7 separate regions of the Homo sapiens genome follow, and all the other regions are linked to region 1. The links come from fine-mapping of genetic effects on gene expression. A gene starts in region 1. Each other region holds a variant in brackets. All regions are shown on one strand. Distances are from middle to middle.

Region 1 (4,067 bases):
AGCAACACTGTCCACAAGGAGAGGAAGAGGAGTGCTAAACCACAACAGAAGTGGGCAGGGCTCAGCCACAGCCTGATAGTTCTGTCCTGACAAAGACTCTGCCTTACCTCTCTGGGTTGAGGTCTACGATGCCCATCACTAACACCTTCTTGCCTGGTCTCATGCCACCTTTAATGTGCCCACAAAATGGAACTATCTGAAAAGGGTGGGAGAAGAAAAATGAATTTTACAGCCTGTTAGGGAAAAGCCAAGACCTCAGACCCTGAAGGCCTGACCCACTGGAAAATGCAATAAACAAATGAATAAAATTTTAAAAAGCAATGAGAAAGGAGGAAGGTACAGGCAGAGACACAGAGCAAAATCATTTACCAGTCGTGGGAAGTACACGTCCGCTTGAACTGGAGAGCTCAAAGAGTTGTTTAAATGGCCATCATCTAGTTTCTAAAAATAGAAGTACACAGATTGGCTTTCCATGGGCTCTTTTTTGGGGGGCTGGAGGAAGAACCCACACAGATGTGGTGGAATCCAGCAGCCTTCCACATGCACACAGTGTCTGCAGATGATGCCTCTTCACCGTCTCTTAGATAATCTCATCACCCCCGAACAAAACCCATCCTTTCCACCCGGTAGTTAAGCCTCTGAAGATCCGCAGACCCTTCAGATCCAGATCAAAATCAAGGTCGAGGTCCACCGAAGAGCCAGAGCCCCACGCCGGAGGAGGGCAGGCCCCTCTCCAACCGTAAACGCTTCTGGAAGCGCGGTGGGCCAGGCCTGTCCTTCGGGACGTGACTGAAGTGCAGCGGCCGTGCTCAACTTCTCTCGGGAGCCCCGGGCGCCGACCCATTTCCAAGGGGGAATCCCCGGTACGTCGGGGGCGGTGGCGGGGCGCGCGCCCCGGACACACTCACCCACGCGCACACCTGGCTGGCGGTTGCACGGCACAGAGGGGGCTGTCGGGCGTCCCTACCCGCCATCCTCCCCAAACTCCCTCCCCAGCCCAGAGCCCCGCAGCCCGGGAGCCTCTCCAGCCCCTAACACCGGCCGCGCGCAGCCAGCGGCTGCTAACAGGTACCGGGCGCCTTCCCACGCGCCGGGCGCCGGCCGGGCCTGCGGCTGCTCAGCACCCCAGCACTGCTGGAGCAGGCGGCGGCGGAGTGCGGGACGGCGGGGAGGGGCGCCTCGCGCGCGCCCTGCCACACTCACCACCACGGCATCGCTGTCGGCCACTGATCCCGCCATCTTCTTGCCCGGCGCGGCGGGGTACGTGGGACGCGGCGCGCGGGCGGGGATCCCGGGGCTGTCCTGCGCGGGGCGGGGGCGGGGGCGCGGGTCCGAGCTGGCGGCGGGCGCGCGCACACACGAGGGGGCGCGCGCGCGCGCGCCCGGGGCCCGGCGCCGACCTGGCAGGCAGAGCCTGGGAGGAGGGGAGGGGAGGGAGGCAGCGCGAGCTGGGAGGGCGAAGGTGCTTGCCGCGGCCCAGAACGGCCCCGGACCCGGGCCGACGGGGCTGCTTGCTGCCGCTGCCGCTGCCGCTGCCCGACCAAGAAAAGTGGCGAGGGCCGTGCCGCGTCGGCCCTGGGCAGCATTTAAAGGCCTCCGGGGCCCGGCTCGGGAACCGGGAACAGGGCGGGGACCCGGCGGGGCTGCCGCGGCTTGCTCAGCGGGCCCTGCCCCTCGGCCATTGGACGGTGGCGGAGGCCGGGGCGGGAGGGACGGGCCTGTCCGGGTCCGGGAGGGCGGGGGCCCTGTCGGCTCTCACCGGCCAGAGGGTGGGCAGGGCCGGGGCTGGAGAAGTGAGGGCCCGAGCCGGTCAGGTGACAGGTGCTCGTGCCACCCGCGCCCCTCCCTCCAGCCTCCTTCCTCCTGCCACGTCCTGGGCGCTGGTGGGGCGATGGGAGGCGAGGTCGAGGGAAGATTGGGTGCTGGGGGTGGTATTCCAGAGTGGGAGACTTGGCAGGATTTCTTTCAGAGAATTCCAACAAAATCGGGGGAAGGATTCATTCTGCTCTCTAGGGCAGAAAGAGAATGGAAGGTCTGAAGGCTTGCAGAAATAAATGTGTGACCTGAAAGAACGAAGCAGAGAGGACTCAAGGTAGGGACCTTTCTATCCCAGGAGGCTAGATACAGAAAGGTCGCTCTTCCCTGTGGAAGGACAGGCAGGTCTAGGGGTCCCTGGACTCTCTCGAGCAGGAGTCAAAGCCTTACCAAATCAAAGTGGGCGCAGTCACTGTCCTCAGAGAGCCTCCATTGAGCCCTGTTTTTAACAAGTCACTTGCCCAGTCTGGGGTAGTCAGCTTCTCACTGAAAATCTCCTCATACCCTTTGTGGAGTACTTCCCAGGGGATACACACCTCTTTTATTCAAGCCAGAAATTCCTTTATGGCATTTCCACACTAGGACGATTATGTAACTTCTCAGATAAAGCTGTATCAACATATCCTCTATTAGGTGACATCCTTGGCTGAAACATTCCATTGCATGAATCACCGGGGCGTTCTATGCTAATAAGCAGGGAGCATGTGTGACCTACTGCAGTCCCAGAGGGCCCCTCAGAGGCTCCTTTTTTTTTTTTTTTTTTTTTTTTTAAATTGAGACGGAGTCTCCCTCTGTGGCCCAGGCTGGAGTGCAGTGGCGCGATCTCAGCTCACTGCAACCTTCGCCGCCCGGGGAGGCTTCTTTCTTCTAGTCACTGCAATTGGCTGTGTGGCCTAGAACATCAATGTGGCTTTTGTGTCTTAGTTTTCCCTTTATGGACCAGAGCTAATGATGGTAATCTCAGTTGAGCAGGGAGAATTACCTGCACACGCCTGTAAGCCTCACTCATATCCTCTGGAAGTGGTTCTTGAACTAGATAGAGGCTAAAGCGCAGTACGCTTGTGGCTGCAGCACACTTTGTTTACCAGTCTTAGCTCAAAATCACACTTTATTACTTTAAAATGTTAGGCACTTATAGGAAATGATTGACATTTGAAAGCATACTTTAGTATGTATCAATTTCTGAGAGTCTGGTATAGAGAAGAAGCATTAAAGTGCAGTAGTTCTTTATCATTAACTGAGTGACACAATAAGGGTGACACTACATGTGATGGTGGTTAAAGAGCCGGTGTCTCGCGTTCAAATCCTGGCTCTACTATTCACTAGCTGTGTGATCTTGGAAAAATTACTAAACTTCTCTGTGCCTTAGTTTCTTCATCTGTGACTCAGAGATGACAATGATGATAATAATGCCTATCTCAGGTTATTGGGAAGATTAAGTAAATACCTTCCTTAAAACAGTATTGGGGACATAGTAAGCACTTATTATACCAAAATACTGAGTGCCTGCTGTATACCAGGCACTGGGGATCCAGCAGGCTACTTTTTTGCTGAGCTTACATTCTAGTGGGCAAAGGAAATCAATAAACAAAATATGTCGGGTGACAAAAGTGTTAGGAAAAAGTAATAAGGCCAGGTGCGGTGGCTCATGCCTATAATCCCAGCAATATAGGAGGCTGAGGCAAGAGGATCACTTGAGGCCAAGAGTTTGAGACAGGCCTGGGCAACACAGAGAGACTCTGTCTCTACAAAAATAAAAAAAAAAATTAGCTGGGTGTGGTGGTGTGCACCTGTAGTCCCAGCTACTTGGGAGGCTGAGGTGGGAGGATCACTTGAAGCCAGGAGGTCAAGGCTGCAGTGAGCTGTGATCTCACCACTCTACTGCAGCTTGGGTGACAGAGTGAGAACCTGTCTCAATAATAATAAAAATAATTAAAAAGCCAGTAGAGAGAGAGATAGGAGGTAGGGTGATGCTATTTATACAGGATGGTCAGGGAAGCCACCTCTGGTAAAGTGACATTTGAGAAGACCCCTGAAGGAGGGGGGTGAGTCATGTGGACATCTGGAGGAAGAGTTTGCTGGCACAGGGAACTGCAAGGGCAAAGTCCCCAAGTACTGGGGCTGGGGGCAGTGACTGAGGAGATGTGTAGCTAGAAATGGATAGCCCTTCTACACTGTGGTTGAGGATTGGCTTTTACATGGGGAAATAGGAAGATATTAAAAGTTTCTGAGCAAAGGAGGGACATAGTTTG
Region 2 (4,067 bases), 150 kb after region 1:
TTTTGTATTATTAGTAGAGACGGGGTTTCACCATGTTGACCAGGATGGTCTCGATCTCTTGACCTCGTGATCCACCCACCTGGGCCTCCCAAATTGCTGGGATTACAGGCGTGAGCCACCGTGCCCGTTCCCCTTTGGGACTTTAACATCACATGTTCCCAGGGGCTCTGATTGTTAGAATACAGATTGTCCCCGCTTCCAAGTTGGGGCTTTTATGAATCCATAGTGTTAAATCTCTGGAGGAAAACAGAAGGAGGATGTCTGTGTGTGCTTCCCTGTGAAAATCAGTACAGGTGTAGGTAGTCTTCCTCAGGCTCCACTCAAATTTACTTAGGCTTTCCAGCAAGAGCAAGACAGCCATGATGTTTGGGATCATTTTATGCATGTATCTTCTGGGTGCCTGGTACCCAGAAGTTTATTTCACCTAATCCCAATCTATTTCCCTAATGACACAACTATGATGTGTCTTGGAATACTTACCCCTTCTGTTAGTATCATCCAGGTGTCTAAAGGAACAGTTTGAAGAAGCATTCATATATTTTGGAAAATGATAGTCTAAGACACTGCCCAGTATATTATCTTGTATATAGTACCTATAATATACTACTTATTATATAAAAGGTAATATAAAGAGGCCAGGCGGGGTAGCTCATGCCTGTAATCCCAGCACTTTGGGAGGCCGAGGTGGGTGGATTGCCTGAGCTCAGGAGTTCAAGACCAGCCTGGGCAACACAGTGAAACCCCGTCTCTACTAAAATACAAAAAATTAGCCAGGCATGGTGGCATGTGCCTGTAGTCCCAGCTACTCGGGAGGCTGAGGCAGGATAACTGCTTGAACCCAGGAGGTGGAGGTTGCAGTGAGCCAAGATCATGCCACTGCACTCCAGCCTGGGTGACAGAGTGAGACTCTGTCTCCAAAAAAAAAAAAAGTAAGATATTGAGCAGTATCTTTGACTATCATTTGTTACCTTCTGTTAAAGGTAAACATGATAAAACAACTACTGATGTTTAGTGCTAGAAAATATTTCTATCCATAAGCAAACATTTATGCTTCCTTTTATTTGCCAGTGAGAACTATACAACTTGATGTATTGCTTATTTTGCTTTGCCTACCAGGAAGCTCAGCACTAAATTTAGTGTTCAATTGCAGCAACTAATTCATCCCAGCAATCTGGTGTGTTTATCTCATTTCACTTTTATTTGGTTTCTGTTATTTTTCTCTTTTTTAAAGCTTTTGTTGGCCAGGCGCAGTGGCTCATGCCTGTAATCCCAGCACTTTGGGAGGCTGAGGCGGGCAGGTGACGAGATCAGGAGTTGGAGACCAGCCTGGCCAATGTGGTGAAACTCCGTCTCTACTAAAAATAGAAAAAAAAAAAAAAATTAGCTGGGTGTGGTGGCTTGTGCCTGTAATCCCAGCTACTCAGGAGACTGAGGCAGAAGAATTGCTTGAACCCAGGAGGTCAGAGCTTGCAGTGAGCGGAGATGGCGCCACTGCACTCTAGCCTGGCGACAGTGCGAGACTCTGTCTCAAAAAAAAAAAGCTTTTGTTATGTTTTTAGATATATTCTAACACTGTAAACCACCTCCAATCCTGTTTTTGTAGTTGTCAGGACATATAATAAATCCAAAATAAATATGAATAAAACTCACATTTGTTCATTCTTCCAAAATTGTT[T/C]ATTGATCACCTCCTACATGTCCGGCATTTTGCTAGGTACTAGGAGAAACTCTGGAGGGCAAACAGACTAGTGCTCCCCTTGGAGAGCTCACAGGCACCAGACTCCCAGGCAGGAGGAGGGCAATGAAAACCCAAGGCCCCAGGGAAAGAGCCTGAGAAGAAAAATGATGAGATTGTGGAGTTGTGGCAGCCAGGAGAAACAAGTGTTTGCAAAGAAAAGGTAAATCCTCTGCTGCAAAGAGACCAAGTAAGACAAGGACTGAGATGTGCACACTTGGCAACAAGAAGGTCACTAGCTACTCTACCAAGAGCAATTTCACTGGAATATTAAATGAGAGATAAAGAAGTAGGGTCAGCAAGTGTCGACAACCCCTTCACAAAGTTTGGCTGAGGCAGAGAGAGACAGGGTGGGCCACTGGGGAGAATGTGATGACTTGTGCTAAAAGTGGCTCAGCCCCATCAGGTACCACCTAGGTAATGTCAAATGATTATTTGAATTCCTGTTAATATCCAAGTCTTTTTGATAGTCTGGGAGACTTGGACTATCAGGTCAATGAGAGAGGAAAAACACAAATATTAATGCTTTAGCTGCTCATTGCTCGGCTATCTTCTATTCTGTTAAATATCACTGTGGCTGTGGGTGCTGTCTTCCCAGAGCACCCAAGAACCCAGGAGCACCTTAAGGACTCTATTCTCAACTCAGATGTCTGGCACGTTTGGCTGCCAGTATACCGCTGGCCTCCATCCCAGTTCGACTTAAGAATACCACACTTTACAAAATCTGCACGATCAATTCCTCTGCACAGCAGAGGAAGTGGAGTTGGCCAACAAGCCCCATGAGCATGGGAAACACATTTACATTCAATTTTTCCAGGTCTGGGTTTATGTCCCACCTGGACCTCTGCTGGTTGGTTTCCTTATTCACCTGGCATTAGCTTGATTCATTGTAAGGATGGCTCTAATGACATGACAGCAATCTGCATTGTGATTTTGGTGTTGTGAACCTAGAAACAGTCCACATATCTTCAAGACAAACATAAGGGCCATGTGAGGCTCTTCCAAATTTACTTTCGTAATAATTGAAAGAAAAGTGGTAACTTTCTCCAAAATCACAGCAACTCAATATATAACTAATTACATGATATTCTGCCTCCTATTCCTCCTCTATCATGCACTTAACTTGCACATCACATAAACGTTCAATCAACTATCTCCTATTTTATAATGAGAGTTGTGCAATTACTTACATTTCTTTCTTTATCTTGGCTGCCAGGAAGCTCATATACAGGTTTTATTTTCAGATACAGCAACCTTCTTGAATTTTTCATTTGGCACATTTATTTATCCACTTACTTTGAGTCTATTTTTAAAATTTTTGCTCATTTTTTTTACTTACTATATATGACATTTTTGGAAACTGATTCATACCTTTTTTGAAAATGAGGTAGGGAATACATGAAATCAATGGATAATTATGCATTCCTCTGTTCCTTCTGCTTTCAGCTTACTCTCATTTGTGATATGGAAGGAATTCTTGTTTTCAAAGATAAACTCGTTGCTATTTTACCAAAGACTTTAGGGATGTGCGTGTGTGTGTGTGTGTGTAGCAAGATGCATTGTAGCACAATAGTTGAGAATGTGAACTCCGAAGACAGACCACCTGGGTTCAAATCCCAAATCTTCCGCTTCCCAGCATAGTGCCCTTAAGAAAATTTCTTTCTTAATTCTGTGGACCTTAGTTTTAATTATGAGAGTAATAATACTTAACCTATACTATGATTGTGAGGATAAAATGCTAATACATTAATACATGTAAAATGCTTGGAACATTAATGTTAATGGTTATTGTTGGTGTGGGCAGGGCAGAGAGGTGGTGCTGGAAATCAAGTCCCTCTCCAAAGGTGGAGAGAAGGTGGCACTACTGGTTGCTCTCCCTCCCTCCCTCCCTCTAGGTACTTTAGCCAGACTGTAGAAGGCAGCTGCGCAGTGGTAACTGGTTTAGAAATTTCCCTACTCTGCACAACAGGCCTCGGTTTTCTGCTCAAGATCCTTGCTCCACATGATCTCATTCTAATTTTCCCTACTTTACTTATTGAACCAAAAAAACTCCATAGGGACTTATGTCTATTCTTATTTTAATCCATCTCTTGAGCTTTTCACTCCAATGGCTTTTTAAAGACTTTCTATTTAGTTTTTTTTATTACTAGTCAGTTGGTCACTTTTATTCTTATATATGTTCATCAATAAAAGAGACAAATAGTCCTAGAAGGCAATCTTTTGTTCCCTTCCCCACAGAAGTCACTTTCAGTTCTTTTTAGCTATTTGGGATTTATTGCTATGTCTCTAAATAACATATTTGTGTTGTTTCTTGTCTGTTTATAGTTTGCTTTAG
Region 3 (4,067 bases), 180 kb after region 1:
GCTCATGCCTGTAATCCCAGCACTTTGGGAAGCTGAGGCAGGCGGATCATCTGAGGTCAGGAGTTTGAGACCAGCCTGGCCAACATGGCAAAACCCCATCTCTACTGAAACTACATAAAATTAGCCAGGCATGGTGTAGCCATGCGCCTGTAGCCACAGCTACTCAGGAGGCTGAGGCAGGAGGAACACTTGAACCTGGGAGATGGAGGCTGCAGTGAGTTGAGATTGCATCATTGAACTCCAGCCTGGGCAACAGAGCAAGACTCCATCTCAAAAAAAATTTTAAAATAAAGGATAGAGGTAGAAGAGGACTAATCAAAGGGCAAAGAGGAGAATCCAGAAGGCCTGGTGTTAAGAAAGCTAGGAAAAGTGATATTGCCTGTTGCAAAATGGACAGAGAAGGCAGGTAAGTGGACGGGGTCATGAGGGAATCAACTGCAGGAGCTCAGCTGTGAAGGAGAAGAGAGCATTTTATTTTAAAGGAAGATTACTGACCATGTTCCCATACTGCAAGGGAGGGTCCAGAAATGCAGAGAAGAAGAAAAAAGGAATAATGGAGACAGCAAAGGCTCATGAGAGACTGGAGCTAGAGCACCAGTGAGGGCTCTGGGCTGGTGAGAATTCAGCTTTTCTTTGAAAATACAGGAGAGGGCTTGGAAGGTGAGGTGGCTGCAGAAGAGCCTGCAGCTCTGAGGATGAGAATTCAGGGAGTTTGTGAAATAGAAGCTGCTATAGATTGAATGTTTGTGAACACCAGCCCAACTACCAAAATTCTTATGCTGAAGCCTTAATTAATCCACAGTGTGAGACATTGCAAGGTGGAGCCTTTGGGAGGTCATCAGGGTGGAGCCCTCATAAGGAGATTGGTGCCCTTATAAGAAGAAGAAACCAGAGCCCTCTCTTGCTCTGCCAGGTGAGGACACAGTGAGAAGAAGGCCATCTGCAAGCAGGAATGGGTCCTCACTAGGAATCAAATCTGCTGGCACCTTGATCTTGAACTTCCCAGCTTCCAGAACTGTGAGAAATAAATGTCTGTTTTTAAGCTACCCAGTCTATGGTGTTTTATTATAGAACACCATAATTCTATAATAAATTATAGAATTTATTATAGAATTATAATTATTATAAATATTTAATTAATAAATATAAATTATTATTATAGAATAAATTCTACAATTTATTATAGAATTATAGAATTTGCCAACATGGCAAAACCCCATCTCTACTAAAACTACATAAAATTAGCCAGGCATGGTGTAGCCATGCACCTGCATGACTACAGAATTCTATAATTCTATGATAAAATATAGACTATGACTAAGACAGGAGCCTTGGTGGTCTGCCAAGAGAAAGGTGGTCATGGTTGGGGAGGGGACAGCAACACAGCAGTGAGGGTTTAAGATGAGAGAGAAACAGAACAGGAGGAAAGGATGCTGACCAGGGGCCTGTGAGGGGTCACTGTGCTAAGAACCCAGCCGAGGTCAGAGGCCCCAGGTTGTGTAGAACCCAAACCACAAGAGTGTGTATTCCTCTAGCCTCCTTCAGGAGTCCTTGAGTAGGAAGAAAGAGGGAAAATGATTCACAGAGAAAACTGATTCACAGAGAAAGGTTTGCAAGACTGACATAGCAAAAGGAAGGGGAAAGTGGGTTGAGGTTGCTGGCAAGAGTCACAGAAGACACACACATGTATACATATACATACATATATAATTATATAGAATTGTATGTGTATATATAATTACATATGTGTGTATATATATGCTAGAGAGAGAGAGAAGGATTGATCACAAATGTAGAACAGGTCTGAGTTGCTAAAGTGGAGTGGAGTTGAAATTTTTTTTGATAAGGCTCTTATCAAAGAATGCTTCTGGAAGATTAATCTTTTTTTCTGGAAGGAAATAGAGGTAAGTGCACCACTTAGCAGGCTGATGTAATGGTCCAGATCAGAATTAGTAAACACACAGAATGCAAGTTGCAGTGACCCACCTGTGCCTCTGGCAATCGTCACCAATGGACAACCACACTCTGCTGCTGAACTCAAAATCTTTCTCTACACAGTGCTCGGGCAGCCACTACCAATTAGTTGGAATTGGCCCAGGAGATGGAAACTGCTTTCAGTTCTGGTCTGGATGAAAGGTAATAAGCCTGGCCTAGGTTTTTAGCAGCAGGCATGAAGTGACTGCAATGTGGAGCCCACCACAGGGTAAGAGAAAGAACATCTCACAGCCAGCCAGCCTCTGATCACTGGGTTCCCAGAACCCTGAGAGAGCTGAGGGTGGTGCCAGAAACGATCTCTGGACTCAGAATTGCTCTGGGGCACACCCAGAAGGCCAGTTGCTACTGAAGCACCCGAGCTCACCTGGACAGTCTCTCAGAATCCCAGGTCGGTTAGCCTTGGCTGGCTTCGGGAAGTGGAGAATCAGACAAACCACAGATCTCATGACTCAGTGATCTTCCATAAGGGAGTAGATGAGTGTTTCTGGCACTGGCCTGGTAGGAGCTCGTGGGAGGATGCCAATAATTCC[C/A]TTTAGTTACTCTGGGTCATGGTGTCCTACTAGCTAGAGCCAGCCTGAGGCCACAAGGAAACAGAAGCAGCTTTGGGCCCATCTCTGAGAAATACCTTTCACTTTATCTAATTCCCTTTCTTTTGGGTGAGCAGCTTCAGCCAGCAGGAAGCTTCATTTCCTTCCTCTCTGCTGGAACTCCTTGGTTCTGGGCCTTTGTTTTTATCAGCCATTGCAAAACTGATCTCTGATTGCACAATATGGGCAATGACATGACAGTGACTGAGACTCATGAATCCCATTAAGCCCAGTGGTGTTAATAGATCAGATATTCATAAAGAGATAGCAGTATTAATCCCTGACTTGTCACCACAACTTCCTTCAGACTGTCATTAATATTAAAAAGAATAAGTCATCGATATGTCATGCTGGTCTGCAGTTGTTTGGGGCCTTTTGTTGTTACATAATGAATGGGTTCCATGTGAAGGCCTCCGGGAGTGGTTTTTGCTGTTTATCTCTTTGTTCATGTTTGTTTATTTGTTTCTCCTTAGGCACTTATCAGAAGAACCAAGAACTGAAGATACAGGAAAAAACTTCTGCAAGTTCAATGTCCAAAAGAGACTAGGATTTAATTGAAACATACAGATCTAGAAAATCAAAGTCTGATTAAAAGAGTTAACAAAAGAAAGCACAACACTAAGGGGTGTGTGTGTGTGAGAGAGAGAGAGAGAGAGAGAGAGAGACAGCAGGGCAGGAGAGAGGGTAAGAGAGCAAAACAGCTTTGCAGGGGCAGGTGATGGTGTGATTTGAAATGCCTATGAGATGCACATCTGGCAGGTCTGAAGCCTGCAAGTAACACATGGAGCAAGTTACCCATCACCCTGGCATTTCCTCAAGTCTAAGCTATATTAGCGTCCAGCCTCCCACACTTTTTTGTGCATCCTAACCTAATTAGTTAAAGATTACATTCTCCTGTGTGAGTGGCAGAGTCTCTTGGGTACAGTCTTTTGGGCTAGGACCCAATAGATAGCAGTGGCTGTGTCATTTTAGATAGCAGTGGGAATTTGGTAATTGATTTAAAAACAAGTCGGCCGGGCTCGGTGGCTCACGTCTGTAATCCTAGCACCTTGGGAGGCCGAGGTGGGCGGATTGCCTGAGCTCAGAAGTTTGAAACCAGCCTGGGCAACACAGTGAAACCCCGTCTCTACTAAAAATACAAAAACATTAGCCGGGCGTGGTGGCATGTGCCTGTAGTCCCAGCTACTCAGGAAGCTGAGGCAGGAGAATTGCTTGCACCTGGGAGGTAGAGGTTGCAGTGAGCCAAGATCGCGCCACTGCACTCCAGCCTGGGCGACAGAGCGAGACTCTGTCTCCAAAAACAACAACAAAAAAACAAGTCAACAGATACACGCAAAAGTTCCCAAGGTGTAGGCCACATTCCAAACAGGGTTTTAATGGCTACCTACAAGTTTCCTAACCCTGCTTCCCCCCAGTTCAGCAGAGGGATCTTTCCTCAGCTAGCAGGCATTAATTGAATACCTATTAATGAATAGGAAGGAGCCA
Region 4 (4,067 bases), 220 kb after region 1:
GCTATTGCTGACGTAGTCTGCTGTAAAATTACAATAGTGAATAGGCAAGGACCGGAAGATTCCAAATTGTGAAACAATTTGGAGAGGTACTACAAATCATCTATCTTAAAAAAAAACATGGCTGTCAGAGCCTGGGACCTGATTCGGAAGACATCTCTGACTGGATAATGCTGATTATGAAAATTGCTGAAAGGTTATAAATAAAATGTTAAATAATACAGTACAGCTAATTCTTCAGGTGTTGATTCCATTCTCAAGTAAGAATCTACATGAATCAAGTAACAGCACACAACTTTCCTGGGGGTAAAGATGGGGAGCTAGGAAGCCCAAGGTAAATGCGCATTTTTATTCAGATTCTCGAAGAGGTATGTGACCCAAAAAGGGTTAAAAACTAATGTTATCTATATTATTTTGTAAACTGCATCTTTTAGTCGGTACATCTTGTCATCTTATCATGTCATTGAATATTCCTCTACAACATCTTTTCAAGTAGCTAGAAGAATTTTAATGTATGCATGTGCCGTTATTTGTTTAACTATTCTCCTAAAGTTGAACATTTAGTTTACTTCCCATTTTTGCCAGTATCAACTTGTAACTAAATCTTTGCATACATCCTTAATTATTTGCTTTAATACAGTAAAGGGGTTAAATTACAGGGACCAGGCTGGGCGCAGTGGCTCATGCCTGTAATCCCAACACTTTAGGAGGCTGAGGTGGGCAGATCAGGAGATCAGGAATTTGAGACCAGCCTGGCCAACATGGTGAAACTCTGTCTCTACTAAAAATACAAAAATTAGCTGGGTTTGGTGGTGGGCGCCTGTAATCCCAGCTACTCGGGAGGTTGAGGCAGGAGAATTGCTTGAACTCAGGAGGCGGAGGTTGCAGTGAGCCGAGATCGCGCCACTGCATTCAAGCCTGGGTGACAGAGCAAGACTCCATCTTGAGAAAAAAAAAATTATAGGGCCTAATATTTGCAATTGTGTATGGGAAAAACTGGCTTCACACAGGATATTTCATCCAGGTTTGAGATCATAACCTTCCTTTAAATCAAAGAGCACAAAGCTAGCAACTTCAAAAAATGAACATTTAACAGCATTTGTATTTATTTACATTGAATTGCTTTACCATTTCTTCAAGTTGCTTTACCATTGCTTCAATCAAAGCAGCAAAATGTTAGTAATGCTAAATTGAAAGAAATTCTGAAGGTGCCATCTGGAAATGGCAGCACCTTGGCCCTAAAAAGCATTCTTGACTCAATATTGAAGATACTTGTCATGGTATTTTTTTCTGATTCCAGGGAGTTTTAATATATGTTCAATTGAGTGATAATCTTAGAAAACAATCATGGACCTCTTCACTATGTTTCCAAGAAAGATCTCAAGCCTTCGAGATTAGCACAAATCTTAAAAGGTCATATCTGAGTACTTTTGGTTTCTTACCTCCTAAAAGGCAAACCAGGCCATTTGTTGTTTTGCCTGGTAACAAGAGGAAAGAGCTTCTAAAATTAGTGTGAAGCCAGACCTACTGTGAATTAATAATGAATAGAATCACTGATTCCATAAATAACAGGATTCAGGGTTGAGAAGGTCAGCTTGGCTGCACTCCTAGAGGAGTAAAAGCGCCTCCAAAGTTAATGCTAGAAATAAAAGGTAGGGAGCCATGATGTTTCTAAAGGAAACCTAAAGAAAATCTTGCTGTGCAGGATGAATTTCAGTAGTGGCCATTCTTAAAGTCAACTGCATCTCAGATAATCATAGTCAAAAAAGTAAAGCTAATGAACCTCATCCAACAACTTGGTTTAGGATTATTGTTTGTGATAGCGTACTTTCTGTCATGTTAGTCATCACCATGAAAAGCTGTTTTTAAAAAGTGATCCCAGGCTGGGCACGGTGGCTCACGCCTGTAATCTCAGCACTTTGGGAGGCTGAGGCGGGCGGATCACGAGGTCAGAAGATCGAGACCATCCCGGCTAACACGGTGAAACCCTGTCTCTACTAAAAATACAAAAAATTAGCTGGGCTTGGTGGCATGTGCCTATAGTCCCAGCTACTTGGGAGGCTGAGGCAGGAGAATCGCTTGAACCCAGGAGGCAGAGGCTGCAGTGAGCCAAGATCATGCCATTGCACTCCAGCCTGGGTGACAGAACAAGAATCTGTCTCAAAAAAAAAAAAGTGATCCCACTCTCAGAAAACATGAATAGGTCCCCGGCCTGTATAGCCCTCCCAACTGGCTTTGATCTTTCATACCTACATGTTGTCAGGTAAATTAATTTTTTTTTTTTTTTTTTT[TG/G]AGACAGAGTCTTGCTCTGTCACCCAGGCTGGAGTGCAGTGCCACAATCTCGGCTCACTGCCACCTCCACCTCCCAGGTTCAAGTGATTCTTCTGCCTCAGCCTCCCAAGTAGCTGGGATTACAGGCACCCACCACCATGCCTGGCTAACTTCTGTATTTTTAGTGGAGATGGGGTCTCACCATGTTGGCCAGGTTGGTCTAGAACTCCTGACCTCCAGTGATCCACCTGCCTTGGCCTCCCAAAGTGCTGGGATTACAGGCATAAGCCACCATGCTTTTTTTTTTTAGACAGGGTCTTGCTCTGTCGCCCAGGCTAGAGTGTAGAGGCATGATCTCGGCTCACTGCAACCTTCACCTCCCGGATTCAAACAATTCTCCTGCCTCAGCCTCCCGAGTAGCTGGGATTACAAGCGTGCCACCACGCCCAACTAATTTTGTATTTTTAGTAGAGACAGGGTCTCACCATGTTGGCCAGGCTGGTCTCAAACTCCTGACTCAGGTGATCCGCCCGCCTTGGCCTCCCAAAGTGCTGGGATTATAGGCCTGAGCCACTGGCCCGGCCGTCAGGTGAATTAATTTAACAGACAAGACAAAACCCTTAAGGCTACATTTGGATCCCCTATAGAGCTCTGATAGTCAAGGAATCTTGAAAGTAGCCCAACAGCCAAGAACTTGTCTCAAATTGTATTCCGTTTTCTTATTTCTGATGAAACTTGGTTTCCAGAGATGAATAGTAATCTCATTTTTTTTTGTACGTTCAGGTGTTCAATTGCTGTTGTTTTTCTAAAATGGTAGTTTTCTTCCCTTTAATCCACCGCTTCATGTCACCTTGTGATATCAAACAAGGATATCACATTTTGAACCACACTTAGCACAGGCCAAATACTTTATGAAATGGGCATGACTCAAACTTGACAAAGTGAAGAATAAAGACCCATGCTGCCCTTTTCCTAGAAAGCTGATGAATCCTTCACCAATTCTTTTCAGTAGTTTTGTTCCTGGCCCACAGGGCTGTTCGTTCTTCTCAGCACACACTATTTACGTATCTTTCACTACGGTACAGATTCTTCAAAGACCTTCCCTTTGTATCTCTAAGATAGCTAAGTATTTGAAACATCCACCCCATTTAATTAATGCAACCCAAATAGTAGAGATTAAATCATCCCAGGCTTCCAGGCAAATGGAGGCTCTTTCCTCTGGTAGGTCACAAACACACACACAAATAGAAGCAAATGTACACCTATGTAAAAATACCCATCGACTCCAGAACTGCTCACAACAGAATCTCGGGAAGCTGCCTTGTTACTAAAAGATCCCAAAATAAAAATACAAGAAAATAGATTCAAAGGAATAAGGTAAAATTTCACCTTTGGAGAGCTGGCTCTAGACAGGATAAACTTGATCCTGAATTTGGTCATAGCATGCAGTTTTTTCATGGGTTGGCACAGAGGACCAAGGAAGAGCAGACCTGGGAATCACAGGAATGCTCTATCTCAGGCTCATGGATGCATTGGCTGAGAGCCCCAAACACGTGAAAGTTCTATTGCCACTATCATGGTCCCACTGTGGGAAGACCCACTGTTAAGTCAGGTTACATGTTTGAAATCAAAATTTAAAAGTATGCTCCTCTAAGCTAATAGTATAGAACTGTACATGACCTTGGCCTACTCTAACCCAGTGAAACATTACCAGCTCAGTAGAGCAGAAAGAGGTCATTTTCAAAACTGGTTGAATTATAACAGGATTTCCTGAAGGCCAAGAGGAAACCATGCTGTTT
Region 5 (4,067 bases), 110 kb after region 1:
GAAATATGAAGAGTCTTGGTCCAGGGCATCTCCCCATAGTACCTGGGGTGTTCTGAGCACACAGGGCACTCTCCACACATAAGGTGGTGCCAACAGCTGCCGGACACAGGAGAGGCAGCCCAGGCTACTGCAGTCACATGGTAATGTCACGTGCCATAAACACATAAGAAAGCCAGGGGATGCTCCCAGGAAGTTGCAGGGTATCAGCCAGAGTCCCAGAAGGAAGATGGCATTCCCAAAGGGTTTAGCTGAAGGGATTTTAATGAGGGGATGATTTATAGAGAGGTGGGCAGATTTCACAGAACCACAAAAGATGGTGAGATACCCAGGAACCTCACCATCCTGGGACTGTGTATTCATAGGTTTGTCACCAAATTTTTGCTAAAACTCAAGGTGCATATTATTGGGGTGCTATTTGGCATAGAAAACATTTGTCCAGGAAATTTTCTAATATCATGTCAAGTTAAACATAATTCATTGCAAATAAGAGGTACAAGGCATAGTATAATAGCAAGCTAGCACAAACAAAATTTGTAGACTTGCTAAAACATGGGAGAACAGCGTAGGCCAGAATAACAGTGATTAAGAGTTCAGGCTCTGGTGCTGGAGTCCCTGGGTTCAAATCCTTACTAGCTATGGGATCATAAGTGAATTTACTCATGTGTAAAATAGAGGTAATATTACTTATCCCATAAATTGTTATGAGGATTAAAGGATTAAATGCAATATTTGTAAGATGCTTAGAACTTTACTGGCACATAAATACTAGCATTATCTACAAAATTATACTACCCTTCCTCCGTTCACTCAATAAATATATAGTCAGGAGCCACATAACAATGTTTCAGTGAATGAGGGACCACATATACAATGGTGATTTCTTAAGATTATAGTATCATATTTTTATGTATCTTTTCTATGTTTAGATGTGCTTAGATACACAAATACTACTATGTTACAATTGCCCACATTATTCAGTACAGTAACGTACTATAGGTGTTTGTAGCCTAGGAACCATAGGCTAGACCAGATAGTCTAGGTGTGTAGCAGGCTACACCATTTAGGTTTGTGTAAGTATACTCTGATGCTCTCATTACGAAACTGCCTAACAATGCATTCTTTAGTAGGTATCCCCGTTGTTAAGTCACACATGACTGTGTATTAAATATTTACTATAGGCATCATCCTAGGCTCTGGGGAAAGTGGTAAGAAAAAAAAGACTACCTTTCCTGATGGACTGGGAAGAAAACATTAACTAATAATCACACACAGAAATAAAATCAAAACCATGAGTGGTGGTGCTTGGAGCCATAAGAGCTGGTAATGACTATACAGGGGTAGGCCTTCTTGAGGAAGTGACATTTACCTATGACCTAGATGAGTTTACTAGGGAAAGTTCATTAGGTAAAGATGAGAGGGGGAAAAATACCAGGCAGAGGAAGCACTATGTCCTCTGTGGCAGAAAGGATCATGGCAGGCATATTAGTCAGGACCCAGCCAGGAAAGCAAAACCCACTCTAGGTGATTTGATAGAGGGAATTTCATACGGGGAGTCAGAGGAGTTGAAAGAGCTCCCAGGGGAACCCTGAGAGTAGCAACTCCAGGAAGCTGGGACTACTGTATTTGTTTGCTAGGGCTGCAGTAACAAAGTGCCACAGACTGGGTGGCTTCACACAGAAAGTTATTGTCTCAGAGTTCTGAAGGCTGGAAGTCCAAAATCAAGGTGTCAGAAGGGGTAGTTCCTTTTGAGGCCTATGAGGGAAGGATCTGTTCCACGCCTCTTTCCTTGACTTGTAGATGACCATTTTCACCTATGTCTCTTCACATCGTCTTCCCTCTGTGTGTGTCTATCTCTGTCCAAACTTCCCCTTTTTATAAGGACAACATTCATATTGGATTAGGGTCCACCCTAATGACCTCACTTTAATTCGGCTACTCTATAAAGACCACAACCCTAAATAAGGTCACACTCTAAAGTACTGGGGGTTAGAACTTCAACACATGAACTTGCAGGGGAGACACAATTCAACCCATAGCACCACCCTGGAAGCTGGAGAACAAGGAAAGAAACAGTTTCTGGAGCCTAAGACAAGATAAGCTGGAACAAAGAGGGCCTGCCAAGATGGGTAGCAGGGATCACACAGAGATGGCTGTGTAGTGGGAACTGCAGCCACAGAAGAGACTCCTGAGAAAGAGAAGCAGGAGAAGTACTCTGGCTTCTCCTTCCTTCACCTCCAATATCTTTTGCCCTCCCTCACTCCCCAT[T/G]GGCTGAACTTTACTGGAAGGCAGTTGGCTCTGGAGCCTGGAACAGCCCCCAGTGACACAGAGCAGATCGGGGGACCACGGGATGGGAAGGGTGGACATGGCTCTGACAGCAACAATGTAACACCCATGCAACGAGTCTGCGAGGCCGAATGGAAGCCAGCTGGCTGCAGGGGAGAGAGCAAGAGAGTCTGGCAGAAGGTGCACCTGGAGAAGGAAGTAGAGGCCAGGCCAGGTAGGAGTTTGGTCTGCATGCTAAGAGCCATAGAAATATCCAAAGGTTTTTAATAGAGCTGGGGGAGAGGCGGTGATGTGATCAGAGATGTGTTTTGAAAAGACCTATCTGGCTATGAAGTGGAGAGTGGGTTGAGGATAGTGGGGCAGATCAGTTAGAAGGCTACGCCTAAGAGAAAGCCTGTTTTACAAAAAGAGGGAGCTCCTGCTGCCCCTCTCTTTCCCTGGAGTTTTCATACCCTCCACGTGTACTAGACATGTGTATCTGCCAGTCAAAGCCACCCCTCCCCTGGTGCAGAGGCCCGCTCCAAGCTCTCATTGCCCAGTGTCCTTTTTCTAGATCCTCTCCTGGTTCACTTCCTTTCTCTCTGGGCAGTCCTTCCCATGCTGCAACACTGATTCTTCTTTTGTCACCCACCTGCTGCAAGGGGGGCCCTTGTCACCCATCTCACCCATCACTCTGGCTTAATGGTGCTGACTGAGTCCACGGCTTTGGTGGCCACCCATATGTTGCTGCTGCTTCTCAGATCTGTATTTCCAGACATGATTTCTCTCGTGAGAAAAATCAGCCTGCCAGATATCTCCACTGGAATGTCCAAAGGAATTGGAATCATGAGCTCAGCATGTCTAAAACTGAACACATTATCTTCCCCTCGCACGTGGACCCCTGTAACCTGCCCTTCATCCTGTGTTCCCTATCCTCCTTATGTCCCACCCCCACTCCTGTTTGAATATTTCACCAGAAACAGGAGTGGGGGGTGGGACGTAAGGAGGATGGGGGAAAGAACATCATCCTAAACTATTCCCTCTTACTCCCCCACATCCCATTGCTGTCCAAGTCCTGTTGGCTCTGTCCTAGATATCTGTCAAAATCCACTTTTCCTGCTACTTCCCTAGCCCAGGTCCTCATTTTTATGTGGGTTCATGCAGTGGTCTCCTAGCTGGCTTCCTGCCTCAAGCCTTGCCCTGGCCGGTCCACTTTTCCTACAATCAAAGTGACATCTACCAGTGTAAATAGATCATGTCCTTTCTCTGCTTAAAATCCCTTCAGTGATTTCTTATCGTCCTCAAGTCAAGTCTGATTACTATCTCTGCACAGTGCCCAGCCCACAATAAATGATTGGTGATTAAATGAATAAATGACAAACCAATATAGAAAAATTGCTAAGTGTGGAAATGAAGAAAAGATGCCATTTTTTTTCCCCTGGAAGTCTTTCCGACTGTCCAAGACTCAATCTGGATCTATCCTTGGGTGTGTTTGTATTGTACTTCTCACACTATACTAAACCCATCTACTTACCTGTCTGTTTCCTACTGGAATGTTCCTTGGTTGCTACTATATCTCTTAGCACAGCTCCTGGAAGAAAGTAAATGCTCAAAAAATATTTGATGAATGAATGAATGATAAGGAGAGCTCTGGGCTGGGGCTGACTATGAAATGCTTATTAGGAGCAGAGTGTGTCTGTCCTGGTTCCAAAGCACTGGGGGAACCAGGATGGGTAGAGAGGCTGAAGGCAAGCCCTTTAGGGGAAGGATAGCAGTGACGAAGGCTGAAAGATCAACAGCAATAC
Region 6 (4,067 bases), 190 kb after region 1:
CAGGGTGTTCCAAGCATGTTTAAGTTAATTCACTTGTATAATTAATTTGCTCTGCTCAAGTAACCTCGCACATCTATCGACCTGCACTTAGTCCAGCTGGATGCAATGACAATCAAATTAACCACGTGGTAATTCAGACCAGTCAAGAAAATGACCCTCAGCAAATTGCAGGCTGGAGTTGATTGTGCAGTTTGTGACTATGTATATGTTTTTCCACTTCTGGAGACATGGGAGACAAGCCTGGCAATTGACATACTGTAAGTGGGAAAAGCTTGAGATTATTTTTGGAACCAATCCATTGTCTACTCCTGTCTTCCTGATGCCAGGGAAAGGAAATACGAGTAATTGCTGTCCAAGCCGAAAGCTGGTTTTCATGGTGAGAATTCCTCCTTCTTTGGTAATGTTCATATGTGGGGTTTTAAAAATAGCTTTTATAATTACAGACTATACTATTAAAGGTGTGCCACTCAATTAACCATTTGCCTCCATAGCATGGGGATATCCCATAATGACAGGTTAATGGATTCCACGTTTAATAAAAACAAAAGGGACCATTAGAGTTCTAGTAAAGTCAGCAGCATAACTCTTTGCTGGCCATGGATTCCTTGTTAAACTGGCCTCAAAAGCAAATGTATGGAGAGCCTTTAAGATTTCAAACTAGTTTAATGAGTTTCACAGAAATGTTCAAAGGTAGCTTTCCCATCAACTTAGAATTGAGGCAGTGGAAGCTTAAATGGAGTCTTATGTTCACCTCAGAAGTGGGATACTCAGAAACTGACCCCTTGTTCCTTGAATCTCTCAGCTAATCCTACTTCCTCTCTGAACTGTGCTCACCAGTGTTTGAATCCATTTAAGTCAGTTCTGAGGAGGAAATTCCAGGCACTCTTCCCTACATATTCTGGCATGCAGAATCCAAAAGGAATTCTAGGGGGTGGAGGGCTGGCAGGAACACAGAGTGGGATGGGGCAGAAGTAGTGTTCCTGGGGAGGGCCTGGATATAGGATGTCATGCCCAAACAAGGGAAGGAAAAATGCAGGCCACTCTGGCAGGTAGGGATATTCAAGGGCTGCCAGTTGCAAGAAGCAGGATGGGGTGTTCATCCACCCGTGCCAGGGGGAGCAGGGTTATTCTGGGATATCCAATTCAAAATAGGTGGAAAAATGGGTCAGGGCTCAGGACCTAAACAATGAGGGCTAAAGGACCAGAAGTCTCCAGATAGCTACCTAGAGTATGTTTTCAAACTTTTGTGTGAATATGAGTCTCACAGAAAATGCAGATTCTAATTCAGTTGGTCTGGGGCTCTACATCTCTAACACATTCTTAGGTCATGCTGCTGCTGCTGGCTTATACACCACACTTTGAATATCAAGGGGATAGAGTATAGGTTAAGGTGTCTCCTTCTTTTTCTCCTAAACATCATGGTCCCAAGAGGAAGGAGAAAGCCTTGTACTCTACAGCCTGGGCAATAAGACTGCTACTGCCCAATAACACTGCTGAGAAGACACATCAGCCCCCACTGATCAGGGGAGCAGTCAAAGTCCTCTTGTTAATTCCAGGGCAGAAGCTGAGCAACTGGCTACTGGAAGAGACTCACAGCAAAAAACAGCCCAAAACAATGGGCAAAAGAAAGGTCATATTTGGTGAGTCCAGGGAAGAGGCTTAAGTCTCTACCCCTTTTTAATGCTTTGAAAAAAAGGATCTCTCATCACCCACACTATGGTCAGTGCTTTGAGTAAGGTCCCTCTACAGAGTGAGCCTCAGAGTATGCTGAACAAACACTGTGACCCAGGCCAGCAGACAGGGTTGAGGGGCTACTGCTCTCTCATAGTAATCTAGGAAAATATAGAGGGAAGATTTCTTCCGCGGCTGCTTTCCAGGAGCTCTAAATTGGGTACTGTGATGGTTAGTTTTATGTGTCAAATGAGCTAGACTATAGTACCCAGTTGTTCAATAAACACTAGTCTAGGTATTGCTGCGAAGGCATTTTGTAGATGTGATCAACATCCACAATCAGCTGACTTTGAGTAAAGGAATTATTCTTGATCATTTCTATGGGCCTCATGTAATCAGTTGAAAGTTTTCAGAGAAAAACTGAGGTTTCTCCAAGGAGAAGAAATCCACCTGTCAATTGCAGCTCCAGCTCCTGTGGGAGAGTTTCCAGCCCTCGGGCCTGACCTATAGATTTCAGACTTGTCAGTCCCCACAATCACACAAGCCAATTCTTGAAAAACTTTTGTAATGTAGAGTTGATCCTCATTATCGATGGATTATGTATTTGGAAATTTGCCTACTTTCTAAAATTCATTTGTAACCCCAAAACCAATACTTGCAGTGCTTCCGCAATCAATCACAGACATGCTCAAAGCAGTGAAAAGTTTAAGTCACCCAATGCACAAATTTTTCAGCTGAAGTCAATTGAGGCAGCACTTTCATGTTTCAGCTCTCATACTGTAAACAACTGTCCTTCTCACAGTTCATTTAGTGCCATGATTTTCACATTCTTGTGCTTTTTGTTGGTGATTTCATTGTTTAAAATGACCCTT[G/C]AGTGTAGTGCTGAGGTGTTGTCTGGTGTTTCTAAGCACCAGAAGACTGTGATGTGCCTCACAGGGAAAATACGTGTGTTAGATAAGCTTCATTCAGGCATGGGTGGTAATGTTTTGGCCATGAGTTCAATGTTAATGCATCAACAGTATATATTAAATAAGGTGTCTTTAAACAGAAACACACATAAAACAAGGTAATATCTTGATCAGTTGATGAAAATGTTGTGACCAGAGGTTCATAGGAACCTAACCCTGTAGATCCCCTAGGAGCAATGGTTCAGCATTTGCTATTTCAATGTTTGTGACAGCTTTATAGAACACTGCTATCACGAATAGCAAGAACTGACTTGGGTGGGGGTGTGTGTGTGTGTGTCCTGCTGGTTCTGCTTCCCTATGTTCCGCTTCCCTCTGCTTCCCTGGTAGCCCCCTTACTGATGCAGATGCAATACTGCCCTTTCCTCTAGGTCTGGCTATGCCTAGCACAGATGACAAGGGTGTTATGTCCTTTCTGTATTCAGATCCTCGACAATACTCTGCAGATGGAGGGGAGGAGTCCATGTACAAACCTCCTAGTGAATGTTAACATTCCCTTTAACAAGGAGAGTTTTTCTCTTACTAGTTCAGATTTAGGAACATAAAATATATGCAGGACTAGTAATTTGGATGTTATTCCATCTCTCTGATACAGTAAGAAGTAGGCTAGACTAGATAATGACTGGAATGCATTTCAGCATTTTTAATGCAATTTGAGTGATGAGTCCCAAATTACTTTTTCAGTGTAAACCAATCAAGTATATTCTAGTTTGAGTGTCTTTACCAAAAATAAACTTCTTTATGAATGTATAAAAAGTAATTAGACTGTCTCCAAGACATTGAGCCTATTCCCAAAGGGGGAAAGAAGCCAGCATGTCTCAGAGAAAAAGGAAAGCATCAATTCAACAAGCCCACTGCCCTTCCTCTCCCCACCCTAGTGGTCAGTTTTCATTTTCTTGGGCTGTAGTTATGATTCCAGCTTGCCTGGCCTGCAGCTGCAGGCTTCATTCCTAATTCCAAACTTATTGTCTTCCATGTTGCGCTGACTGCCACAGGAGGGTCTGGGTGAGAGAAAGTAAGGTCTTAGCTCAAATCTACCCCGCTCCTGAGACACCATGCATGCTCACTCCCTCCATGGGCTGGGTCCACAGCCCAGCTCTGCAGCGCGTGCCCAACACCTGAATGGGCCTTCAAAGGCTTACAAATAATTCTCTTTTTACTTCAAGAACATGTCACGACTAAGAATAAGCACCATGCATCAGCCACCATTGATCCTGAAATAAAATGCTGTCTGGACAAAAAAGAAAAAGCTTCTTTTATGCACTGATCCTAGGAAATCAGACCACCATTCACTTCACAGACCGTCTGCAATGTAATTCAACTGTCAAAGAGTGTTCAAACAAACAGAGGAAGGGGAGAGCATAATACAGCCTGAAATTTACTTGTATTCAAAAGTATTTCCCTTTAATGTTTAGCAACTTCTACAATATG
Region 7 (4,067 bases), 170 kb after region 1:
AACCTAAGGCTGCTCCTGTCTGTGGCTCTATGGCTCAGCCAGCCCCGACCCCTCACAGGGCAGCCAGGGCTGTCCCCTGCTCCCTTGCCTGAGGCTATCTACTACGGGGGTGAAGTCAGTGCGAAGCCAGAGGGTTGAAGACGCCCCTTGGCTCCCAGGTCTCCCTGGCTCTCCTTCCCAAGCAGCCAGCAACTGTGCCCATCTGCTCCTGTACAAGGGCCACCAAGGGGAGGGGGATTCCTCCAGATGGCAGCAGGGGCAGTCACTCGGAGCTGCAGGCCTGAAAGGTAGTACAAAAAATGAGTTAAACTGCACCCCCATCCCTTTGGTTGCAGATGATGTAGTAGAGAGAAACAGAGGAAGCAGGGGTGGCACCTGCCAACCCTTCCTCCAGGCTCCCACTGAGTTTGCTCGGCTCTGAAGTTGGTCCTGGCTGCCCTCCCGCTGTTCAGCACTCACCCACATGGTCCTTCCTCTCCAACAATGCTGTCAGAAGACTTGCCACTCTGCTCCCAATATGTGCCTGGCCAGGGGCCAGGGACTGGCTGCCGACCCACTGACTACCACTGAGCCAGACCCATGGCTTCCCCTCCTAGAGCTGCAGCTGGCATTTCCTCTCTGCCCCCTGGTCCCTTTGGGCTGCAAAGGAGCCCTCTGGCTCATCTTAATCTAGGCATGGCTGGGGGCTGCTCTTGGGGTAGGCTTTAAAGCCTTCTTTGCTCCATTTTGCAAGTCAACACCCCGCACACCTGCTCTCTCCCTTCCTCTTCTCTCTGTGTTCATCTCTGATTCCTTCTGTTGTTATTTCTCCCCATCCCACCCCTTCAATCCATTGTTCCCATCTACACATAGATATATGTCAGGATCATGCCTCTCTGAGATATCCTCCTTTAACCTCATATACCCTCCTAGCTACTGCCCTAGTTTCTCTCTCCTAACAGTAAAACTTCTTGGAACAATCATCTTCACATATTCTCTCTTATTCCTGCCTTCCATTAATTCCCTTACTCGCTGCAACTTGACTTCTATCTGCACTGCTCCACACAAACTGCTGGAACCAAGGACCTGTGTCCCCGTATTGTAAATCCAGTAGACACTCCAGTCTTTACACGCTTGACTCCTCAACGGAATCAGACACAGCGACACGTGCTCTGTCCTGAAACGCTCCCATCTCCCTCTCCCATGGCATCCCGGACACCCTGTTTCCTTTCTAGCTCCTTCTTAGCTGCTTGCGGCAGTGTCTCTTTTTCTATCTGATCCATAAATGTTGCAATTTATCTGCACTCAGCTCTTCTTCCTGCCTTCTCTTCCTCAGATTTAGGGCCTAAATGATTTCATTACAGAAAAATGAAGTCATTTTTTTCTAACACATTTCAGTGTGGACTGGGATTCATCGCTAAAGGACAGGCAAACATAAATCTTTCATCTCAAACCATGATAAGTGCTTGGAAGGAAAAATTTAAACAGAAAGACTGGGGGAGAGCCTAACTCGGCCTAATTCACACTGGGGTAGGAGTAGGGCGGCCTCCCGAAGGAAGCAACATTGGAGCTGAGACCTGACGGAGGAGGGGAAGTTGCACAGGTGCAGGGTCAGAGGAGAAGCAAAAGCGAAAGCAAATGAAACAAAACAATAAGTGGTAAAGGCTCACACAGATGACACACATATCCCTACCTTCAACCCAGACCTCTTCTCTATGCTGTTGATTACTTATCTACCAACCCTTCCTACCTTCCGAACATTTCCATTCCGGCATCACTCAGGCATCTCAAAAAGTCTGGATTTCCTCACAGGCACTTGTTTTCTCCCCAGACTTCCTCTGCTGTGTAAATGGCTTCATTTTCCCACCAGTTGTTCAAATAGAAACCTGAGAGTTCTTACCAACTCTTCCTTTCCCTCACTCCGCACATCCAACCCAATGGCAAAACCTGTTCCTTCTACCACTAAAATATATCAAGAACCCATCCACTTGCTCCACTGCCCCCAGCCTGGTTTCAGCCACCATCTGCTCTCAACTGGAAGACTGCAATAGCCCTTCAACTGCACTCCTAACCTTTGCTCAGGACACCCCCCAACCCCATGCAAGAATTAATGTGAACTTTAAAGAACAGGAACTGCTTAAAAATTCTGAAACAGCTTCCCATGTCACTTAAATACAAATCCCCTGGCCCGCACTACAGAGTCCTGTGTGATCTGGCCCCTGCCTGTCCTTCCAACCTCACCTGGGCTGCCTTCCCCTTGCTCACTGGATTAAACTCTTATGGCCATCTTTCAGTTCCTCAAAGCCTTCCCTCTCTTGCAGGCTACTTGTCACAATTTAGGTGACTAAGGCCTATATTTTTCTCTAAAGCATTGAGTTCCCATTCTATGGAGTGGTAGAAACGTATCTCAGCCAACTTGGAGTTTCTTTCCTTCTCTGGCGTTCCTCGACAGTTAAGTTGTGCCAGGTCATTAGG[C/T]TGGTGAAGGCCTGTCAGTCTTCCGTCACCTGTCCACAAGGGTGTCCAATGAGACATCTTTTATTCTCATAATTGTAGGTCATTGAGGCACATAGATCACCACTCAGATGAGTTCCTGGTGTCTGTGCCCCTTCACAAATGGTGGGCAATCTCCTTGCGGCTTTCATGTCTCACTTGGGAGCCAGGACTCTGCCTGGCTGTGTAAGAACAGTTTGTTCAGACCCACTGCACAGCTATTTCCCAACCCCACTCCCCACTGGACCTCAGGACAGATGACATCTCTGGTCTCCTCCTGTCCCCTCTACCTCTCCTTCCACAGGCCTGGGGGATATTTTCTAGTCCAGGGGAGACCCTGCTCTCCTCAATCCCCACATCCCCCAAATATTTTGGCTATGACTGGAGTCCTATACAGTTCCCAGGGGGCTTTTAGCCTTTTAGGGACCAGAGCTAGGAAGATTCATTTCTTTCTGTTACATCAACCTTAAAGCAATGGGCACCGAGTGCCAAGCAGCTTGGCCTGAGGGATGGGCAAAGGGGAGAAATAACAGGAAACTAGGACATCAGTAAACATTCAGAAATACTGTATTATCCCACCCCATTTGTTCAATGCCCACCTCTCCCACTCTATTAGTTAGAGTTCTCCAGAGAATTTTATGTATATGTAAAGCCAGATTAAGTCCTTTAGGGGCCCTAAAGCCCCACATAATTTAAAATAAAATAATTACTCAATCATAACTTTAAGAAACTCTTGTAAGTTAGTTTTCTCCAATGATGACTATTTCGATGCTTTGTTTGAGATATCAAACTCTTTCTAAAATTTATTTCTTGCAGGGGAGAGGGAGAGGTTGGCATTTGCTTTGCTGGTGGCTGAATCCCAGGCTTATTCTGCGTTGTGTGTGATCTCATAGTGCCTTCCCTCCGTGGTGGCAGGGGGTCATGGGAAAGCTGGGTAGCAGCTTAGCCCACCTGCTTATGGTAGCCACAGCCTTGACATTCCTAGGAGGCCAGCCTATTATCCACTAATTTAAAAATTAGTTCAACTCATTTCCTTGGAGGAGAAGTAATAAAGCTACTAATCATCTGATCAGAACTTCTATTTCCTTAAGAACTCACGGAATACTTATGACTGATTCATTCCTACATATTTTCTTGTGTTCTTGACATAAGAATATAAGACCAGTCTTATCTGTACATTTCACTTATCCGGCAAGCAGGGTAGGGGAGACTGGGCAAAACCTGAAACCAGAATTGCCTGATCCTTGTCACCTGGTTACATAATGTTCTTGTAACCCAAATAAACTTAATATTGCCCCTTAGAACTTAAAGCATTCAAGGCAAAGTGGACCTTGAAAAGAGTCGATTGTGATTGTAAATAAATCCCAGTAACTACTGCCTTTTCTCTTATTAGCTACTTCTTCAATCCCCATTTTTGCTTCTAGGGCTTGTTAGATTAAAGTATAGTGGTCCCTCAGTATCCATAGGCAGTTGGTTCCAGGATCCCCCCTTGGATACCAAAGTCCCAAGACGCTGAAGTCTCTTATATATAATGGTGCGGTATTTGCATGTAACCTACACACATCCTCCTGTATATTTTAAATCATCTCTAGATTACT

Direction of the effects. Alleles are on the strand shown, and positions count from the first base shown. SD is a standard deviation of normalised expression in the study named. Not every link is listed here.
With allele G in place of TG in region 4, the expression in monocytes of the gene that starts at base 1,623 in region 1 is higher (large effect, 1.4 SD a copy in Schmiedel 2018).

Evidence for each region. PIP is the estimated chance that this variant, and not a neighbour inherited with it, causes the effect.
Region 2: its variant is fine-mapped to the expression of LGALSL in whole blood (TOPMed, PIP above 0.99).
Region 3: its variant is fine-mapped to the expression of LGALSL in whole blood (INTERVAL, PIP above 0.99).
Region 4: its variant is fine-mapped to the expression of LGALSL in monocytes (Schmiedel 2018, PIP 0.95).
Region 5: its variant is fine-mapped to the expression of LGALSL in whole blood (INTERVAL, PIP 0.99).
Region 6: its variant is fine-mapped to the expression of LGALSL in whole blood (TOPMed, PIP above 0.99).
Region 7: its variant is fine-mapped to the expression of LGALSL in whole blood (TOPMed, PIP above 0.99).

What each region holds. Positions count from the first base shown.
Region 1 is chr2:64,451,718-64,455,784 of GRCh38, reverse strand. It overlaps LGALSL (galectin like), which reads right to left and starts at 1,623. Exons shown (of 5, transcript NM_014181.3): 1 at 1,204-1,623; 2 at 370-441; 3 at 108-196. The coding sequence starts at 1,239. LGALSL-DT (LGALSL divergent transcript) reads left to right here and starts at 907. Exons shown (of 3, transcript XR_002959392.2): 1 at 907-1,260. RefSeq lists silencers at 977-1,276, 1,367-1,436, 1,447-1,866.
Region 2 is chr2:64,305,975-64,310,041 of GRCh38, reverse strand. No RefSeq gene overlaps it. Among named protein-coding and RNA genes, the nearest start is that of MIR4433A, 33 kb to the left of the region's middle. The variant T/C (reference allele first, on the strand shown) is at 1,676.
Region 3 is chr2:64,272,340-64,276,406 of GRCh38, reverse strand. No RefSeq gene overlaps it. Among named protein-coding and RNA genes, the nearest start is that of MIR4433A, 66 kb to the left of the region's middle. RefSeq lists an enhancer at 3,671-4,067. The variant C/A (reference allele first, on the strand shown) is at 2,526.
Region 4 is chr2:64,234,943-64,239,009 of GRCh38, reverse strand. All of the region lies in intron 2 of LOC100507006 (a long non-coding RNA gene), which reads right to left. Among named protein-coding and RNA genes, the nearest start is that of LINC00309, 31 kb to the right of the region's middle. The variant TG/G (reference allele first, on the strand shown) is at 2,289.
Region 5 is chr2:64,339,965-64,344,031 of GRCh38, reverse strand. MIR4433B (microRNA 4433b) reads left to right here and starts at 3,184; the gene lies at 3,184-3,285. It overlaps MIR4433A (microRNA 4433a), which reads right to left and starts at 3,273; the gene lies at 3,193-3,273. It overlaps LOC105374768 (a long non-coding RNA gene), which reads left to right and starts at 2,323. Exons shown (of 3, transcript NR_189739.1): 1 at 2,323-2,497. The variant T/G (reference allele first, on the strand shown) is at 2,266.
Region 6 is chr2:64,264,765-64,268,831 of GRCh38, reverse strand. No RefSeq gene overlaps it. Among named protein-coding and RNA genes, the nearest start is that of LINC00309, 61 kb to the right of the region's middle. The variant G/C (reference allele first, on the strand shown) is at 2,544.
Region 7 is chr2:64,281,373-64,285,439 of GRCh38, reverse strand. No RefSeq gene overlaps it. Among named protein-coding and RNA genes, the nearest start is that of MIR4433A, 57 kb to the left of the region's middle. The variant C/T (reference allele first, on the strand shown) is at 2,455.